2 linked regions of the Homo sapiens genome follow. The protein of the gene in region 2 purifies or fractionates together with the protein of the main gene of each other region. This does not show direct contact. Each region holds a gene or a part of one and is shown on either strand. Other genes may lie near its edges.

Region 1 (3,840 bases), on a different chromosome or scaffold from region 2:
CCCCACCCCATCCTGACTGCTGGCTCAGGCTGCTGGGCTGGGCGGCAGAACTGTGTGACCCTGGGCCAGTCACTGAAGCTTTCTGTCCTCTGGCAGAGAAAGGTGGCCTCGTGCTTGAGTCACACTGGGACTCAATGGCAAAAGAAAAACAGGGCAGTCTCCACCCTCTAGGATGTTTCTCCTTCCACTGGGCACAGGGAGGAGGCGGGAAGTGGCATCCAGACCCTGAAGAAGAAAGACGCTGCCCGGCCACGACCAGGAGACCCAGCGCTCCTGCCGCTTCCGGAGATCTGACCCGAGACAACAGCCTGAAATAGGGAATGCGGACCCAGGCCAGTGTGCGTGGCCGGCCCGTGTGGCCCCCATGCTGCTTAGGAAGTCCCCGTCCAGGAGCACTGGAAGTTGCTGTGAGAGCCAACTAGGGTTGGCGGCCTGAGGGACAGTCACCCAGCCACAGAACGACGGCACGGAAGACATGAGGCAGCATGCTCACGAGAGAGGTGAGGGTCTCACCTCCAGGGGCGGGAAGGAGAGAAAGTGGGCAGACAAGGTGTAGCAGTGGTGACAAGCATGAGGGAGAGGTGTGGCCTAGTCCCCAAACTACATAGGAAACACCAGACTTCCCAAGAAAGCCTAAAAACCAACAGACACCATGACATGCGAAGCCTCCACGATCCTGTCCTCCCCACCTCCTGCCCCAACTCCCCTGGGGGCCCTGCCTAAGCCTCAGGACAAGACATGCCCTGCTCCAGGACCTCTGGGCCTTAAGCACAGCCTCAGGCCCTCCCGCCCCCCAGGCGCTCTCCAGGCCTACGACGCCATCCCTGCCTCCTGTCTTTAGGGGTCTGTGAACTCCAGAAAGGCACGGCCAGGCCTCCTCCTCTATCCTCAGGGCCTCCCCAGGGCCTGGCATTCAGAGACAGCAGGAGGTGGAGGGGCCCTGGGGATGGGACAGCTGCCGCCCTGAGTTCTCCACACTACTCAGTGTGGCTGGCCCTGCCGCCAGCTCCAGCGTTTTGCAGAGGGAAACAAGTCCAGCTCCATGGCCACAGGGCACCGGGGCCAGGCCGTGGACAGAGGTGGGGGCTGCTGCCCCTCCCCAGTGTCTCAGGACTGACCTGATCACATGGCAGTGCCCCCGCCTTACCCAAGCTGGCTTCTAGCTCCTGTGCAGTCAGAGGCAGTGGTGTGGGACGTGGGGAGAGAGGAGGACGAGGGGTGGGGTGGGGGTGGGGTGCGCTTACCGCGGAGGCGCTGGCCGAGAGAATGTAATTACGAGGTCTAGTCTCCTGAAAGTCAGGCACCGTCTGGCGGGGAACAGAGTTCATGTGGGGAGGGGGTCACCCTGGGCCAGGGCCAGGGTCGAGGTCAGGAGGCTACCCCAGAGTCTTGCACAAGGAGATGCCAAGAGGCCTGACCCCAGGGACGGGGATACAAACACAACACAAACCCCCTTCTCCCGACTCCAACCACCTGGAGATGAGGGGCCTAGGGACTTGGAGAGTCCAGACAAAGATCAAGTGGCTGCAGGCACTGGAGCTCAGGAGAGCAAATGCGGTGAGGAGATGGCCGAGGCTGCCTGAGCAAGTCACAGGCTGGGCTCTCCCCTGCCAGGGGCCACAGCCCCCTCCTCCCCAGACCAGTGGCACTCAGATGCCCCAGGGTCCCGCAAACACAGCCCACCCCCAACTGGGATGGCTTTTTCCATCCCAGAATCCGCACACCACATCTCTTGCTCCTGCATCAAGGGCCAGGCCCCTCCCGACAATGAAGGTGGACAGATGGATGCATGGGCAGACAGAGTGACAGGCGTCCAACATTTGCAAAAAGCTGACTCACAGGCCCCAACGCCTGGCATCCCCCCCTAAACCAGAGGCCCTGCACAGTAGAGGCTCTGGCGGGGAGACCAGCTGCTTGCAAAATGCCCCAAGGACGTGGGCTGGCCATGGCACCGTGGGTCCACGGGCAAGATGGGCAGACCGGAAGCAGCACAGCGCGTGGGACAGGTATACTCACATCTCCCTCACACTGAGCCAAGTTACCCAAAGCAGGACGGAAAGGAACAAAAACAAAGAGTTAGTGAGTCCACAGCGCAGGCAGGAGCAGGCCCCCCAGGCCCCAGTGGGAGGGGACACCAGGCGGTCGGGCGGAGGGAGGCACCACAGCCTGCCCTCCTGAAGAGTCCTAACGTGTGCGTGCTTATGGGGACAGAGCTGTGGAGCTTGAGTCCTCTGGAATGCTGTTCCTGGGGCTGCCCAAGTCCTAGCTCTGGAAAGGTGGCCTGGCCCAACCCCAGGATGTGAGGTTGTCCAGGCCCACCAGGTGAGGGAGAGGCCACACCACTGCAATGACAGGAAAGGCTCCTCTGGCCTGGCTGATGGAGAGAGTGTGTTCTGGCTGAGTTACTCCAGAGACGGTGTCTGGCCCGAAGTGACGGGGGAGACTGTCCTGTTCAGGTGCCTTAGAAGAGGTCATCCCAATAGGCACAGGTCACCCTAGCCAACCCCAAGATTGAAACAACTACACCCCTGCCTCTGATCTAGACCCCACACACTTGAGTGACCTGAGACGGTTCTCGCCAGGGGCAGTGCTGGCTCTGGGGCCACACTATGGGAGGGGAACGCAAGGTGCATGGGCAGCTGTGAGCCCAGGCTAGGCCTGGCCTCCCTCGGCTAATCAGCTGGCAGCCACAGGTAGCCATCTCCCTAGTAGGCCTGGGCCTGGGAGTTCCCTCTGCAAGGTATGAGGCAGCCTTTAGGCCTGGCAGCCCTGAGCAACCTCTTGTGCCAGGAGGGTGTTCACCCTTGGGCCCAGCTCCTCCAATCCTGGCCTCGCCCTGGGCACACTGTCCCAGGCTGCGTCCCATTGACCCAGCCAGGCTGAACAGGCCTCAGTGAGCTGGGAGTGAAGGGGGCGCCAGATGGCCCAGGCCCTATCCAATCTCATGGGACCCCTCGGACACGGCCCTGAGCAAGCGGGCGGTCCAGCTCCCAGGTTTTCCACACCATCGTGGGGGCGCCTGAGCACAGGGACCCTCGGCCTGACGTTCAAGCAGCAAGTAGTAGAGTTAGTAAGAAGGTGCCATGCCCGGGCAGAGCCGGGGACAGAGCCGAGCATCTAGGAGGGCAGGGCAGGGCATGCAGGAGACTCCAGCTGCCTGGCGGGGTGGTGCACCCAGCTGGGGGCACTGCTGGTCCGCCCACACCGTAGATATCTCCCTGGGAACCAGAGCTCGGGGGCCACCAAGGCTCCCTTGAGGGCAGGGACAGAGAGGCTCAGCCCAGCAGCCCCCAGCCAGGCATCTCCAGCCAGGGAGAGGGGAGAGAGGTCATGCCAAATACCAGGTCCCTTCATGCCACCACCCCTTGGCTCCAGCCAGAGCCTGGGCCAGGAGGCCAGCGGGGAGCGGGGACACCTACCGTGGCTTTGGCTTCTGCAGCCTTGGCCTTCTTCAGCCTCGCTTTGCAGGCATCCAAGTCCAGACGCCGGTTTTGGAGGAGCCGCCTCTCCTTCTACAGGGCAGGGCATGGGGACAGTGAGACCCTGGGCTGCCCTGGGAGACCCTGAGCCATGCATGGCAAGATTGGTGCCGGGGACGATCAAGTCAAGATAGGGAAACTGAGGCCCAGAGATAGGAGGTCACTCAGTCCAAAGGAGCCCTCTCTGGGGAGGCCTCAGGAGTTTTGTAGCCCCAGCACTGGAAGAGAGCCTGTACTCAAAGGCTCTGAGGAGGGAACTGCCATGGTTACCAGGAAGCGGAATAGTCCCAGGGCCCTCACCGAGATGGTCTTCCAGTCCCCCTCCAGGAAGTTGCGCAAGGGTGTGAGGAAGCTGATGGAG
Region 2 (5,222 bases):
CTGCTTGCATCAGCAGAGCCATTTCCTCAGGTGAGATATTCTCCAGAACCTTTTAAATGATTCTGGCAACATTTTCAAAGCACCCACATAATAAAAGGCAGTGTACTAAGTACTGTTGGTTAAAAATGCATACCACCTTACAAAAATAGTTTTTAGCCTGTAACTACCAGTGAGGATTAATAACTAAATGAATTCAGATGTTATTAGTTATACTGTTTATATTCAAGATTTTTTAAGATTTAACTGCACATAGATTCTGCAATTCACCTCTCCCCAGGGGCTGGGAACGAAGTGAGCAAGTATCAACCTTGGTTGGTGCATGGTACTTAGGATAAATACCTCATAAATAAAACAAATGGGGTGTTACTGGAAATGGGAGATAGATTTTGGTTGAGGCAGGCAGCCACCTCCTTTTTCTATGTAGAGTATTGTATTCAAACAACCTACATAAAATAACATTTCTCATCACCACACATACACACAATGGCATCGTGCTTCTGTGTCCTGGCTACATGTAGCACTCTCTGATTTTTCTTAATTCAGTTGAGTTTTTTTTTTTTCCAAGTGTTCATCTTGATCCACTAAATTTATTGCATGACCTATGAAATGGATCATAACCCAAATTCTGAAACAACCATCCTGAGAAATAAGTGGTGGTGGTGGTACCCTGCAGCCATTTTCCATAATTGGCAAGGATGATTCCTCCGATCAGCTCAAATATCTGTTGCCAAACTATTGTTTATATACATTTGAAACATGTACATTTAGACAAATGGCAAGACTAAGGACAACAGATAGGTGTTTTCACTTGGTAAATATAACTCAAATTGTCTTTTCAAATAAAAAGATATATTAAAAATCGTTCAGCTTTTAAAGTAGTAATCATATTCTTTTTATGTTTATGTGGTTAAAAGTGATTCCCTATCATTTTGAGGTCGAAAGGGTTGCCTGATAGTTGGTGCAATGTTTTAAATAAACTGCTTCCATATATTATCTCATTTGATCTTCAAAATAGTAGACAAAAGATGCACACTCCTACTGGTAACATTAAAACTCCCACTTTCTGACCTCTATTTTAGTGATCCACAGTGTTCCAATGAGAAGCAAAGGGAAAATAATGTGATTTACTTGATACGCTTTTTATGCTCAAGTGTTAGCCATGGCTCCACTTCTTTAATCAGTTGCCAAACTTCCAAGTCATCTTTACCTTATCAAGATGTTAGCTGAAATCTGGCATTTAACAACAAAAAAAGAGTTTGTATTTCTTCAGGCTCAGTATTCGTACTCTTCAAAGACACTGAAATCGAGAAGCAGCCAGATTCAGTAATGATTTTGAGCAAATATCATTCATAAAAATATGTGTCAGAGTCCACCATCCCAGAAATAGCAGCATTTGATAACTTCACTTCGTTTTCTAGGCACTGTTTGTACCACTGTTTTCTACAGCTTAAATCTTTTTCCTCTCAATTTATATTAATGCTTTTGCTAAAGACATTTTTTAAGTCAGAGCATTTCCTCCAGAAAGTACCTGGCATTTGCTTGTTCAGCATGGATGTGGTCATTAATCCCCCAGATTTGAGCCTCTAGAAAAATCTGGGCAGCAAGATAAGTGTTCTGAGTTCTGCCAAGCTCATCAACTTCTAGAACTCTCTTTTGAGAGGATGTGGTAGTGACTATGGCTCCCTTTACATATAACTGTTTTCAAATCTAAACATCTAACTAGAAATAATTTGTTCCACAGTGATAGAAAAGTGTTGCTGTTACTCACTGGGGCAGTCTCCAGCATTATTCCACTGGTGTCCCCATTTAAAATTACCTTTAATACACCTCAGTTTTATTTACTTGCCAGTTTATAACATCCTTAGGAAAAGAGATTCTAGGATTAAGCAAAACAAGGGATGTTTTTAAATACTGTAACTTTTTTTTTTTTTTTTTTTTTTTCTTTTGAGACAGAGTCTTCACTCTGTCGCCCAGGCTGGATTGCAGCGGCGTAATCTCGACTCACTGCAAGCTCTGCCTCCTGGGTTCACGCCATTCTCCTGCTTCAGCCTCCCAAGTAGCTGGGACTACAGGCACCCGCCACCACGCCAGGCTAATTTTTTTGTATCTTCAGTAGAGACGGGGTTTCACCGCATTAGCCAGGATGGTCTCAATCTCCTGACCTCGTGATCCGCCCGCCTCGGCCTCCCAAAGTGCTGGGATTACAGGTGTGAGCCACCACACCTGGCTAATACTGTAACTTATTTTTCCTTCAGCAAACATTGAGTACCTTTATGTGTCCAGGCACTGTGAGGCCACTAAGGATTCAGAAATGAAACAATTCCTGCTCACAGATGATGGAAGAGTGATCTTACAAGACAAATGATAGAAAGCAGCATACTCTATTTCATAAGAAATCAGAACACTTATAACACCAGTCTGGTATTTGGTATTCTGGAAGCTAGAACTTTTGAAATATGTACTAGGAAAGCTCTTCATACTGTGTCAGTCAGGATCACAGGGCTATAAATGTGTCTGCCTTTTGAGAAAAGGATATTTTACAATTTCCTTATCTGTGATTAATATTCATAATCAGTAGAGCTGGCAAGTATGTTGAAATGATACATACAGTGTTATATTTAGGGACAGGTAGTTACATATATAACACTATAATACAAAATTAACATCATCCTTCAATTTCCAGGTGAAGCTGTGTGACTTTGGATTTGCACGCATCATTGGTGAAAAGTCATTCAGGAGATCTGTGGTAGGAACTCCAGCATACTTAGCCCCTGAAGTTCTCCGGAGCAAAGGTTACAACCGTTCCCTAGATATGTGGTCAGTGGGAGTTATCATCTATGTGAGCCTCAGTGGCACATTTCCTTTTAATGAGGATGAAGATATAAATGACCAAATCCAAAATGCTGCATTTATGTACCCACCAAATCCATGGAGAGAAATTTCTGGTGAAGGTAAAAAAAAAAAAAAAAAAAAAAAAAAAAAAATTTTGGCTATGTGTTTTAAGCCTAAACATCTTTCTCATCCCAAATCAGTCTGTCTCTTGCAACTTATCTTTTTAGTACATCTCCCATTCATCTTCCAAATTCAACTAGTTACCAGTTTTTTGAGCACTCTTCTTTTTATACTTTTATCTGTGTCTTCTGTATAGTTCCCAGGCATAGCACTTACATAGGCCCCAGTGGCCTCATTGTCAAACCACTAAAATATCTTTTTAACTGTCTTACCTGTTAAACTCTTTTCTGGTCCTTCCTAGTCACTACTGCCAAATCTATCTTCAGGAAACATTACTTTCATTTATGGTGCTCCCAAACACTTCTCTTTAACCACCTTACAGGCATAGTTATCTGTGATATGGTCCATGCTTACCTTCTAGCCTCATCTCCCACTACTCCCTACACAAACCTAGTTGTTTACTCTTCTGAACTGTTTTCTGCAATTTGCTTGGGACTGTTTTTCCCTTGTCTACAATCCTTCCTATTAAAATTCGAGGACCCCTTAATTTGTGGCTCATCTATAAAGTTCCCTGACTACTCCTCTACACTGCAGAATTTACTTAGGCTAAAAAACATTTGGGCTTTTTTATTATCTTTTTTTATTTTTATTGAGACGGGGTCTCCCTCTGTCACCCAGGCTGAAGTGTGCACAAACACAGCTCACTGCAGCCTCGACTTCCTGGGCTCAAGTGATCCTCCCACCTCAGCCTCCTGACTAGGTGGGATGATGGGTATGCACCATGGGCCACCCACACCTGGCTAATTTTTAAATTTTTTGTAGAGATGGGGTCCCACTATGTTGCCCAGGCTGGTGTCAAACTCTTGCACTCAATTGATCTTCCCAACTTGACCTCCCAAAGTGCTGGGATTACAGGCATGAGCCACTGCACCCAGCCCCATTTTTTTCTTAAGTATTCATTCTTTTCATAATTGACTTTTCTAATCTTCAGAACAAGACTGTGAGCTCCGTGAATGAATACCTAGCTCCGGTTCCTTATACCTAGAATGAACTTTATAATCACCAGACACACTGCAGTTTGTTTTCCTCTCTCCTGTGGACCTCTGCTGGGAAGCTGCATACATCTCTTTTTCCTGCCTAGTGAAGGCTTTTGAATTTGCAACTCCTGGTTCTGTACCCGTCAAGAATAAGTTGGCTGGCCCTCTTTAGTCTGCTGATACTGATAGGAAGGACAAGTACACTACTTAAAACATTATTTAACTGCCCCATAGAAGTTAATAGAACCAGTGCTGGGGAATACCCCCATCTGGATTTAACCAGCCCATGTAATAGGTAGATCTTTTTTGTTTTTCCAAAAGTACTAGGCCTAATCATAGGATTAACTAATATTCCATCAAACTGGGAAAAGTTTAAGAACAACATGTGAAGACAGTAGCAGGTTTGCTTGGTAATGAAGAAAGCTAATTGAAGAAGCTCATAAGAGATGTTTTTTGATGTTAACCAGTGTTATCTCAGACCTCCTGAGGCAGTGTGTTCTGTAGACCTCTTCTATCAGAATCACTTTGCTAGTTTGGTAGTATAGAGACAAGAAATAGAACTAGGATGGTACAAGTCTTTCCATTTGGTTCGTGTCTGGGTCTAGCCTTTTGTTACCAATATTTCAAATGTACCATTATATAGGGCTGTAGTTAGTATGTAGTTATTGGTTGCCTTGGTTTTGCAATTGATCATTCTCCAAATAAGTGAATAAAATATATATACCAAGAACTCACCATGTACACTAAAACACCCTGAAACCTATTTGTTAAAAGTGTAAACTTTTGGTAGTTAAGCTACCACCTCAATGTGACCATATATAGAGGCAAGGCAGTGCCTTTCCAGACCAAGTCAGGGACTAGAGTGCTCTCTAGCATTGGAGCGGGGTGGGGAGGATCAGAGAGTCTGTTTCATTCATCTTCAAATAATAATAGTTAATACTTAGCACTTATGTGCTAAGCACTGTTCTAAGCCCTTAACATATGTCAGCAACTTCATGAGGAAACTGAGGCATAATATAATTTAGTAACTGACCCAGTATCACACAGCTAGTAGGTGGCAGAACCAGACTTCAGCCCAGGCAGTCAGGTTCCAGAGTATATACTTTAACCTGTACTCTATACTGCCTTATAAAGGCAATGAAAATTTGACAGATACACTTAAATCAGTAAACATTTATGATTCATTTTACATGTTAGCTAAAAGTCCACGTCCTTGAGAAGCAAAAATTCCTC

The links.
Region 1: the proteins of PRKD3 (region 2) and SH3GLB2 purify together in Homo sapiens (affinity purification with mass spectrometry; one large-scale study listed by BioGRID and IntAct). This does not show direct contact.

Annotation. Positions count from the first base shown.
Region 1 is NC_000009.12:129,010,992-129,014,831, forward strand, and holds part of SH3GLB2 (endophilin-B2), read right to left. Parts: coding exon 3,780-3,840; intron 3,513-3,779; coding exon 3,420-3,512; intron 2,029-3,419; coding exon of another isoform or gene 2,017-2,028; intron 1,308-2,016; coding exon 1,245-1,307; intron 1-1,244.
Region 2 is NC_000002.12:37,254,391-37,259,612, reverse strand, and holds part of PRKD3 (serine/threonine-protein kinase D3), read left to right. Parts: coding exon 1-30; exon of another isoform or gene 31-1,297; intron 1,298-2,683; coding exon 2,684-2,951; intron 2,952-3,147; exon of another isoform or gene 3,148-5,222. UniProt on the Homo sapiens protein: Converts transient diacylglycerol (DAG) signals into prolonged physiological effects, downstream of PKC. Involved in resistance to oxidative stress.